Linked DNA regions of Homo sapiens: region 1 is linked to region 2. Evidence: fine-mapped expression QTL. Tissue or cell type: thyroid. Region 2 holds a variant in brackets; the other region holds the start of a gene. All regions are shown on one strand. Distances are between the middles of the regions.

Evidence for each region. PIP is the estimated chance that this variant, and not a neighbour inherited with it, causes the effect.
Region 1: it holds the start of USF2, and the variant in region 2 is fine-mapped to the expression of USF2 in thyroid (GTEx, PIP 0.91).

Annotation. Positions count from the first base shown.
Region 1 is chr19:35,266,521-35,271,663 of GRCh38, reverse strand. USF2 (upstream transcription factor 2, c-fos interacting) reads right to left here and starts at 2,702. Exons shown (of 10, transcript NM_003367.4): 1 at 2,501-2,702; 2 at 2,172-2,218; 3 at 1,965-2,083; 4 at 1,661-1,861; 5 at 1,067-1,217; 6 at 859-946; 7 at 523-581. The coding sequence starts at 2,562. It overlaps LSR (lipolysis stimulated lipoprotein receptor), which reads right to left. Exons shown (of 10, transcript NM_205834.4): 6 at 5,132-5,143; 7 at 4,926-4,985; 8 at 4,697-4,828; 9 at 3,930-4,555; 10 at 3,700-3,840. The coding sequence ends at 3,805. RefSeq lists an enhancer at 607-1,346 and silencers at 1,634-1,953, 2,094-2,283, 3,442-3,591, 3,692-3,761, 3,842-3,921.
Region 2 is chr19:35,352,036-35,357,178 of GRCh38, reverse strand. FFAR1 (free fatty acid receptor 1) reads right to left here. Exons shown (of 2, transcript NM_005303.3): 2 at 3,315-5,143. The coding sequence ends at 4,725. Among named protein-coding and RNA genes, the nearest start is that of FFAR3, 3.9 kb to the left of the region's middle. RefSeq lists a silencer at 2,051-2,150 and an enhancer at 4,127-4,993. The variant T/C (reference allele first, on the strand shown) is at 2,431.

The DNA of each region.
Region 1 (5,143 bases), 86 kb after region 2:
AATGACCTGAGGTGAGACCTGGTGTTTCTGGAAAGGGCAGGATGCTCCGGCCTTAGGTAGCCAGAGGCAGAACTTCATGCAGTTTCTCCCTCAGATGTGCTCCCTGGGGGAACAGACCTACTTCTGGAGGCCAGGCAGGCATGGGAGTGCGGGATGTGAGCATGACAGCTGCCACGTGGAAAGGTCAGCCCACGTGAGCCCGGTCAGCCCCATTTTTCAAGTGGGGCAGGCAATCCGTATGGGAGTGTGAAGTCCACCATCTTAGATGTGGGCCATGAATTCAAGATCACCAGCCGGGTCAACAAATGGCCAGTTCCAATTCACACTCCCTGTCCCTCTACTTCTGACACTGTACTCTCCCCTCGTTGCTCACTTTCTACCTTTACAGCGTCCAGCAAAGCCCTCTGGAGCACTTGTGGCCTGCCCAGGAGTGGCTTCTCTCTCTGTCACTCCACACTCCAGGGCTGGCTGAGCCTGTGAGGGTGGTGGTCAGGGGGACCCGGAGCCACACCTTGTCCTCACCTTCGTTGTGCTGGGCTCTTCTCCTCTCATCTCGGGGTGTTCTGGTTCCATCAATTTTTCTACAAGAGGAGGAAAAAAAAAGGGGGCATGTATTATCGCAGAGCTGTTTGCCCAAGCATCTGCTAAGTATTAGATTTGAAAATTATCTTTGCAAGGTAAATCCATCTGCAAAAACAAAAGACATGATACTTTATGTGCACTAGAGCAGCAGAAACAGGCAAAGAAAAAAAACATTACACCATGTGCCCACTTCATGCTAACTGCCCAGCTTCTACTCCAGAAACCCCTCTTCCTTCCATTTCAACACCAGGCCCTCCAGGTGTCCCCTGCACATACGGAGAGTAAGGGTGTGTCCGGGGGGCGATCGTCCTCTGTGTTCCTGTCTGAAGCACATCCTGGGGCGTCATCATGACGTAGAACTGGCCTGCAGGGAGAGTGGGGGGTTAGTGGCAAGGCAGGGTGAAGTCAGAACTGGCTGGGGGGGCTTCCCTCCCTGCTGGGCCCGTTGCCTCCCCCACCTGCCAATCTGACTTCTACTCCTCACCTCCAGCCTGCAAGCTCTGGTCTGTGGTCTGTACGGACACAGCCGTAGTATCTCCCACACTGGACGCTGGGAAATAGGCAAATCGTGCCTCCCCGCTGACAGCCTCGGCCGCCGGACTGCCACCATTGCTGAAGGGATTTTGGATCACAGCCTGGGGAGTAGGAGGGCAGAGGCTACCCTTAGCTTTCTCTGTTCCTCCATCCCGTCCCCTCATTGCTGTGCTTGGGGTTTACTGCATTCTCTGCAATTAACAGGAGTGGGGACTCCTTCTGCGTGTAGCATTCTGTCCTGTGTTTCAAACAGCCCTGGAACATGGCGGGAGGTCAGCGATCACTTGCTGAGCAAATCCGTTTCGCACTCTAAGAAACTTTCCTCTTAAGACACATCATTCCCATTTTGCGGGAAAAAAAAATTCCAAGAGCACTGTCCCCAGGTTTCACGGTGCACAACAGGGATCTGGCCCCATGCAGCCTGAGGCCTGAAGGCAGCATCCGCTGGGCGACACCTGCCCCACCCCCGGGGCTCCCCAAGAGCAGAGCCAGTGTCCCCTCTCCACTCCCTCCCCCCCCCACCCAGGGGTGGCAGGGCACCTACCAGCGGGAAGGGCGCTGCAGGACCTGGGGGCACAGAGGCAGCGGCGGGGCCCGGGCGCTGGGCTGCCCCGTCCACACCCACCTGGGTCACAGCCTGCTGCCCCCCCGCGAAGGCAGCGGTGGACACGACGCTGACGGCGCCAGCTGTGTCGCCCTGGCCGTCCAGCTGACCATCAGTCACCTGGACTACGCGGTATGTCACCTGCAGGGGGCGGCAGAGCGGCGAGGCCGGCGCTGGGGCCAGGTCCGAGCCTTCCCGGCGCGCCCGCCCGCCCGCCCGTTCGCCCTCGCGGCCCGCCGCTCACCTGTCCTCCATTTGTCTCTGTGCGGAACTGGTACTGGATGTTGTGGTCGCCGAACGCCGCCTGCTGGACGCTGGTGATGGCCACCGCTGTCTGCTCCTCCGCTCCTGGGCCGTCCCCGCCTGGGGCCGAGGAGGGTCGGGGCACGGTCAGGGCCGCGCCGAGCGCCCCCAGCCCTCCCCGGGCGCGGCCGGCCCGGCAAGCACTCACCTTCCTGCAGCTCGACGCCCTCCTCCGCCTCGGGTCCCTTGTCGTGGCTGCCAGGGGCACAGGAGGGAGCAGGGTCAGCGCGGCCCGCGCCCGCGCCCCCGCCCCCGCGCCCAGCTGCAGGGCCCCAGTCCCACCCGGCCGCGCCTGAGGCCGGGGGCGCCGCCGAGGCCGGGGGCCGGGGGCGGGAGGCGCCAGGTCCCCCCCGCGCCGGCGGCCTCCATTTTGAGCCGGGCCCGCGGCCGCTCGGGATCATGGCGGCCCCGGCCTGCAGGCCGCGGGGCCGGGGCCGGGGCCGGGGCGCGGGGGCACGGCCGGGCCGGGGATCTTACCTGGCGGCGGCAGCAGCGGTGGCCGAGGCAGCGGGATCCAGACCCGGGTCCAGCATGTCCATGGGGGGGGCGGGGGCGGGGGGGGCGCGGGGCCCGGGGGGGAGGGGAGGGGAGGGGAGGGAGGGAGGGGAGGGGGCGGGCGGCCGGGGGGGCCCCGAGCCCGGCGCTCACGCCGCGCGGCAGGAGGGGACGGAGGAGATACGGGAGCCGCTCGCGCTGATCACGGGGACAAACAGTGGGGTCATGTGAGGAGGAGATGCCGCCGCCGCCGCCGCAGCCGCCGCCGCTCCTGCAGCCGCTGCAGCCGCCGCCGCCTCCGCCTCCGCCCGCCCGCCGGCTCCGGGCGGCCCGAGGCTCCGGGACGCCGCGCGGCCGCCCCCAGCCCACCCAGCTGCCCGCCCGCTGCACGCGGCCCTCAGGCCTCCTTCCCTGAGCAGCCGCCGCCGCCGCGACTTTTTTTTTTGAACACGGCCCGCCCTGGCTGGCCGCCGCCAGTGCCCTGGATCGCCGGCTCGCGCGGCCGCCGCCCGGCTTGGCCCAGTCCGGCGGCGGATCGCTGCTGCAGCCGCCGCCGCTTTCTATTTTTCCCCCTTTTTTTTTTCCTCCTTTACTTGAGCTGCGCGCGCGCGGCGGCGGCGGCGGCGGCGGCGCGAGCCCCGGGGCGGACGCGCGCTGGGGGGAGGCGGCCCGGGGCGCGCGCGCTGGTCTGTCTCCGGGGGCGGGCGGGCGCGCGCGAGCCCGGGGCTCCGCGGGGCGCGAGGTCGCCGCGCGCCGCCCTGGTGAAACGCGGGTCTGGATGGAACGTCGGGGTACCCGGTGCAGGGGCTGGGGTCGTCGGGGGCCAGGTGGGCTGCCCGAGTTTGGAGACAGTAAAGTAGGTCGGTGGGGGGCTGGGGGGGATGGGCTGGAAGGGGAGAGGAGCGCGCGCGCGTCCCGGACGGCCAGCCTGCGGTGCGCGAAGGCGGAGGGCCGGGGCGCATGCGCACGCCTGGGCGGGGCCGGGGCGCGCACGCAGGCGGGCGGCGGCTGCGCGGGGCACGTTCTCCGGCCGGCGGCGCGGGCGCGGGCCGGGCCAGGCTGGGTCTCTTCCTCCCGGCCCCGGACTCCGGTGCCCCCGGGACGCGGCGCTTTACAGACGCATACGGGAGCAGCCCCGGTCCCCCGCCCCGCGCGGCCGAACAAATGGTTCTCTCCAGAGCTTGTGATTATACGTTTTATTAGACTCGGGAGGGGTATGGCAGGGCTTCATCAGTGTTCCTTCAAATTAAAAAAAAAAATACAAAAGCTACGTAGAAAACGTCAGATCAGACGACTAAACTTTCCCGACTCAGGGCCAAGTTCTGCAAGGGAGAAAGAAAGAAGGGTATGAGCCGCGGGGACCGGCTGGGGGCCCAGGGACGGTCTGGACGCCAGGGAGGGCGGCCCTCACCTTCTTGAGCCTGCGCTCTCGGGACGCCTGCGAGTCGGTCTCCGAGTACGGGGGCGGCGCGGGCGGGTAGTAGGCCTCTTCCTCCTCCTCCTTGTGGGGTCTCCTCCTCTCCTCCGACCCCTTCTTCCTCACAGCCTCCTCCAGTAGCCGCCCATCATAGGGGAGGTCCCCGGACCTGGAGCCGTTGTCCCGAGGGTCCCGGGTACGGTGGTGGTGGGACCTGGGGTCGGCAGGAGGGCGCTCCCGAGACCTGAAGTCGTCGTAGTGGGGGTCCCGGGAGCGTGGGAAGTCCCTCGAGTCGTCTTGGTCATAGAGGTCGTCCCGGCTGCGGCTCCGCGGGGGCATGTAGGCCCGGCTTCTCCCACCATTACTCGTGGGAGACCTGCTCCCTGACTCGGCGGTGCTCGGCGGGGTGAGGTCGTCCAGGGCGTCCACGGAGCGGGCCCGGGGCCGCCTGGCCCGCCAGCCCCCGCCTGCCTGCTCCCTGGCGGGCTCCTGGTCCCATCCCCTGGGACTCCGGGGGGAGTGGCCACCCCACTCCTCATCCCGGATCGGGGTGAGGGCAGGGCCCCGGGAAGGCCGAGATCGCCAGTCGTCCTCGTGGAGGGAGGTGACTTCACTCATGGCTGCAGGGAAGGGGGGTGTCACTGACTGCTGGAGGAGCCCGGGGTCCAGGGTTTGCACCAAGAGTCCCTGCGGCAGGTATCAGGGAGACATGTTTCACCCCCCCACCTTAAAAGCCCTCAGACCCCAAGGCTCCTGCTTACCCCGCTCCACACGGCCACTGGGGGGGCCAGGTCGAGAAGGGTCGAAGTTGGCCAGCTCCTTCTCCATGTAGTACAGGACCCGCATGGAGTCGTCCTGCTGGCTGGCCTGAATCCTGTAGCCACTGCGGACTTCTAGGGACAGGGGGGTGGTGGTCGGTTTGGGAGGATGGATCCTGGCCCACCCCTCTCCCTTACAGGCACATCCAACTTCGGGACGATGGATTCTCACCAGAGGCCACACTGCTGTCCGTGTCCCGAAGCAGGGGTACATAGGAGCCTTGGCCACCAGCTGGGGGAGAGTGGCTGTCAGTGGCCGCGCACCAGGAGCAGAGCCCCTCCTCGGCTCCCAAGACACTCTTCCTTCCAGCCCCTGCCCCTCAGTGTCCAGATGCCCAGCACACTCCCACCAGCTGTTCCTGCTTCCCCCGGCCTCACCTGAGCTACTCC
Region 2 (5,143 bases):
TTTTTTTTTTTTTTTTTTTTTTTGAGACAGGGTCTTGTTGTCGCCCAGGCTGGAGTGCAATGGTGCAATCTTGGCTCACTGCAAACTCTGCCTCCCGGGTTCAAGAAATTCTCATGCCTCAGCTTCCTAAGTAGCTAGGATTACAGGTGCCCGCCACCACGCCTGGCTAATTTTTGTATGTTTAGTAGAGATGAGGTTTCGCCATGTTGGCCAGGCTGGTCTCGAACTACTGACCTCAGGTGATCCGTCCACCCCAGCCTCCCAAAATGCTGAGATTATAGGCGTGAGCCACCCCGCCTGGCCCAAGATTAAGTTTAAATGAACATGAAGTAAAATCCTTTACTAGGGTCATGAAAATGTTCTAAAACTAGCTGATGGTAATGGACTCACACCTCAGTAAATTTACTAAAAATCATTGAATTGTACACTTAACATTGGTGAATTTGATGATATGTACATAATATCTCAATTAAGCTGTTAAAAGTGCAGCAGTAGGCTGGGTACGGTGGCTCAGGTCCGTAATTTTAGCACTTTGGCAGGCTGAGGTGGGAGGATTGCTTGAGCACAGGTTGTTTGAGACTAGCCTGGGCAACATGAGGAGACCCTATGTCCACAGGGGAAAAAAAAAAAAAAAAGAGAGAAAGAAAAAAGAAATTAGCTGGGTTTAGTGGCATGTGCCTCTGGTCCCAGCTACTTGGGAAGCTGAAATGGAAGAATCGCTTGAGCCCAGGAATTCAAGGCTGCAGTGAGCCATGACTGTGTCACTGCACTCCATCCTGAGCAACAGAGTGAGACTGTGTCTAAAAAAAAAAAAAAAAAAAAAAAACAACACGCAGTTGTGAACAAAAAGTTTTTGCTGTCATGCTGTTTACATTACATTTGGTGGTGAGGGCTTGGGGGATGGAGTAGGGGAAGGATCATGAAGACGTGGATACTGAAGAGGCAAAGAGCCACTGGAGGGAACATTGGGGCAGGGGAGTCACGGGTGCACAGACTTGGCCTGCTGGGGGAGCTGATAGGAGGTTTGGGTCTCACAGGAGTGAGAGGCGCCTGGGGTGGATCACACTGAGTCTCCTGGGCCCCAGGGAGGCACTGGATTTGCCCTAAGTGGGGGGAGGCAGGAGGAACTGGGAGAAGCAGCCCAGTACCCAGCAGGGGCTATGGAGCAGGAGTCAAAGAGAGTGGGCCCTGGCACCCTGTGATGCGGGAGGAGGCACTGGGGCTCCCTGGGGTGGAGTTTGGGTTTTTACTGAAATTCCCTGGTGTTGTCACTGCACAAGTGCCGGGCTTGTTTCTGGCTTCCAAAAGAAGTTACTTAATTTCTCTGGCCTGTTTCCATATTGATAAAACAGACATAGAACTTTCTTTGGAAGGCTAGTAGAGGCATTCATTCATTCATTGAGCGAACATTTACTGAGCACCTACTGCGTGCCACTCTGTCTTCTGGGCGCTGGGGATATATCATCAATTACAAGAAAAATCCTTGCATGCGTAGACATTTCAGCCTGAACAGAGCTCATTTGTAGAAATTGGTGCGTGCACCCCAGCTGGTGGCTGCCATTTGTTGTGCTCCAATACATCATCATGTGCATGGCATTGCTGTAATTTAGAGCAGGTGCCCAGGTGTCTGTCTCCTTCACAGCCACAGCCACTCCCTTCTGACCTCCCTCTCATGGATGTGGGATGCTATCCTTTGCGAAATGGACCACAAATACAGGGTTAACCCCCACACCCCCAGGTTTCCCAAATGTCCCCTGGCTCTTGGGGGTTCTGCTTGGAAGGATCACATCCTGCTTTTACCCCTTCCTTGCTGTAGGGCCTTAGGCAAGTTTCTTCATCCCATTCCAGGATCGTAGCTACCTGGTGCAGCACCTTTGTGCAAATTAGGTGCTCCCTTTCCAGAGGAGCCCATCCCGCACCAAGTGCTGCCTAAGGAGTGGCTGGTGTATTTCTTCAAATTAGAACACAATACTCCTTCCCTTGATGCAAGCAAGGCAGGCATGTGGCTTGTTGAGCAAAGCACAGGCTAGAATTTAGTCAGTGTTTGCTCCTCTGCCCAGTACCTTCGTGTAGTGAACACCCGCTCATCCGTACGGCAGTGGCAAGGCTAAACCACAGCGTTGTGTGAAGCTGAAGTGAGACAACACTCACTGTAGACACTCAGCGTGACACCCATCACGTATTACAGACTATATAGTTGACCTTTGAATAGCACAGGTTTGAACTGTGCAGGTCCACTTACTTGTGGATTTTTTTCAATAAATACATTGGAAACATTTTCAGAGATTTGCAACAATTTGAAAAAACTTACAGAGGAACTACAAGCCTAGAAATATATTTTTAAAATTAAGCAAAAGTTAAGTATGCCACGAATACAAAAAATATATGTAGGTACTAGTCTATTTACTGCCACTAGTCTATTTACTGCCA[T/C]ACATACTAGTCTATGTATGCCAAAATGGATACAAAGCTTTTTTTTTTTTTTTTTTTGAGACAGGATCTGGCTCTATTACCCAGGCTGGAGTGCAATGACATGATCTCGGCTCACTGCAACCTCTGCGTCCCAGGCTGAAACCATCCTTCCACCTCAGCCTCCCAAGTACCTGGGACTACAGGCACACGCCACCATGCCCAGCTAAATTTTTTGTATTTTTGGTAAAGACAGGGTTTCTCCATGTTGCCCAGGCTGGGCAAATCTCTTATAGAAAGTTAAAATTGGCAGGGTACCGTGGTTCACGCCTGTAATCCCAGCACTTTGGGAGGCCGAAGCGGGTGGGTCAACTGAGGTCAGGGGTTCGAGACAGGCCTGGCCAACATGGTGAAACCCCATCTCTACTTACAATACAAAAAATTAGCCAGGTGTGGTGGTAGGTGCCTGTAATCCCAGCCACTTGGGAGGCTGAGGCAGGAGAATTGCTTGAACCTGGGAGGCGGAGGTTGCAGTGAGCCAAGATCACACCATTGCACTCCAGCCTGGGAGACAGAGCAAGACTCTGTCTAAAAACAAAACAAAACAAAAAAGTTAAAATTTATCAAAAATATATGCACGCAAACACAAACTCTATTTGATGCCATTTGAAGTCAAGAGAAATGCAAGCAAACATAAAGATGTGCAGTATTAAAGTCATAAGTGCATATTTACTGTAGACATACTGTACTCCTATAATAATTTCGTAGCCACCTCCTGTGCTTTCTCCGTGAGCTCAACTGTTGAGTATCTGCTTCCAACACCACGTGAAGCTAATCACCTCCTGGTGAGCAGTTCTCGCCAGTACACTGTGTACAGAAGTAAAAAGTGATCTTTCATAGTCATTGCATATGTTTCACCATGTTTAATGCAATACCGTAAACTTTGAATAACCCCCTTGGCCCCAAATGCGGGGCCACTAGTGATGCCAGAGCTGCTTCCAAGAAGCAAAGAAAAGTCATGACATTATAAAAAAGGGTTGAACTGCTTGATATCTACCACAGATTGAGATCTGCAGCCGCGGTTACTGCCGCTTGAGACAGACAACTTCTCTTATAAACAGACAACAAAACTTACAGTATTGATAAATACAGCACAGTGCTGTGAAGGTATTTTCTCTTTCTAATAATGTTTTCAGTAACATGTACTTTTCTCTAGCTTACTTTATTGTAAGAATACAGCACATAATATATATAACATACAAAATATGTCTTTTTTCTTTTTTTTCCAGAGACAGGATCTTGCTCTGTCACCCAGGCTGGAGTGCAGTGGTGCGATCATGGCATTGCAGCCTCAATCCTGGGCTCAAGGGATCCTCCCACCTCAGACCCCTGAGTAGCTGGGACTACAGGCACGCACCACCACGCCCAGCTAATTATTTTTATTTTTATTATTTGTAGAGGTGGGGGTCTCACTATCTTGCCCAGGCTGCTCTTGAACTCCTGGCTTCGAGCAGTCTTCCCGCCTCGGCCTCCTAAAGTGCTGGGATTACAGGCATAAGCCACTGTGCCTGGCTTCAAATATGTCTTACTCAATTGTTTATATACTGGGTAAAGCTTTTGGTCAACAGTAGGCTATTAGTAGTTGAACTTTGGGGGAGTCAAAGTCATGCACAGATTTTCCACTGCGTGGGGTTCGGCACCCCATCCCCACGTTGTTCAAGAGTCAACTCCGTAGCCTTTGCCCATCACTGCGGGACCTTGCATTTTCCCTCCCCGGCTGAAGCATCTTTTCCTGCCAGCCTCCGTTCCAAGCTCCAAGGCTGCCCCCTTGCGAGTTTCACATGGTATAACAGCGTCATTATCCTGCCTCCTGCCTCCTCTCCTACTCGGAAATCAAATGTTCTCTCCTGGGAACTGATTTCAGAGTAGCTGTCCTCAAGTGCATCACCGGAGTGGCAGTTCCTGTGGGTCAGAAACAGACTGCCTCCTCCTTCCCGTAAGTACAAGGCCTCTGCTCGCGGCCCACGGAAGACAGGCAGGTGAGGACGTGCAGAGGGGAGAGAAAGATAGGCGAGGAAGGGACAAACTTCCTCGACACGTGCAGGGGCAAACTTACCTCCCCCTGCCACCGTGCTCTGGCTCGGTGCTCCTCTCTTGACTGGGGTGCTGCCCTCAGCAGGCGCCGCTCTCTGCTTGAGTGGCTCCAGGGAGGCCTCCGGGCCAGGCTGCCCTGCAGTTCCTCCGAAGCAGCCCCCCGCAGGGGCCTGGAGAAGCAGCCGGGCCCTCCTGCCCCATGCTCCTTCCCCCGAGCAGTGGCGTTACTTCTGGGACTTGCCCCCTTGCGTTCTTGCCGCACACACTGTCTTCAGGCCAGGACCCCTTCCCAAGTAACCGGTCACCAGCGGATTAAGCACCACACTCCAGGCACCCGTGATGAGCCCCAGCTTCCGCCAGGAGCCTCCTAGATTGGGGTACAGGAAGCTGGCCACGTTGGAGGCGTTGTAGGGTCCTACGCAGAGCAGCAGCGTGAGGAGGGCCCCGCCGGCCACCCAGGCGGCCCGCAGCTTCCGCCTGTGCGTCAGGCCGGAGCGGGCCAGTGCCCGGAGGCAGCCCACGTAGCAGAAGGCTGTGATGGCCAAGGGCAGAAAAAAGAGCAGGAGAGAGAGGCTGAAGCGGGCCGGGCCGGCAGAGGCCGGGTCCCAGGCCTCCAGGCAGACCGGAGAGCCGTTGACCGGTG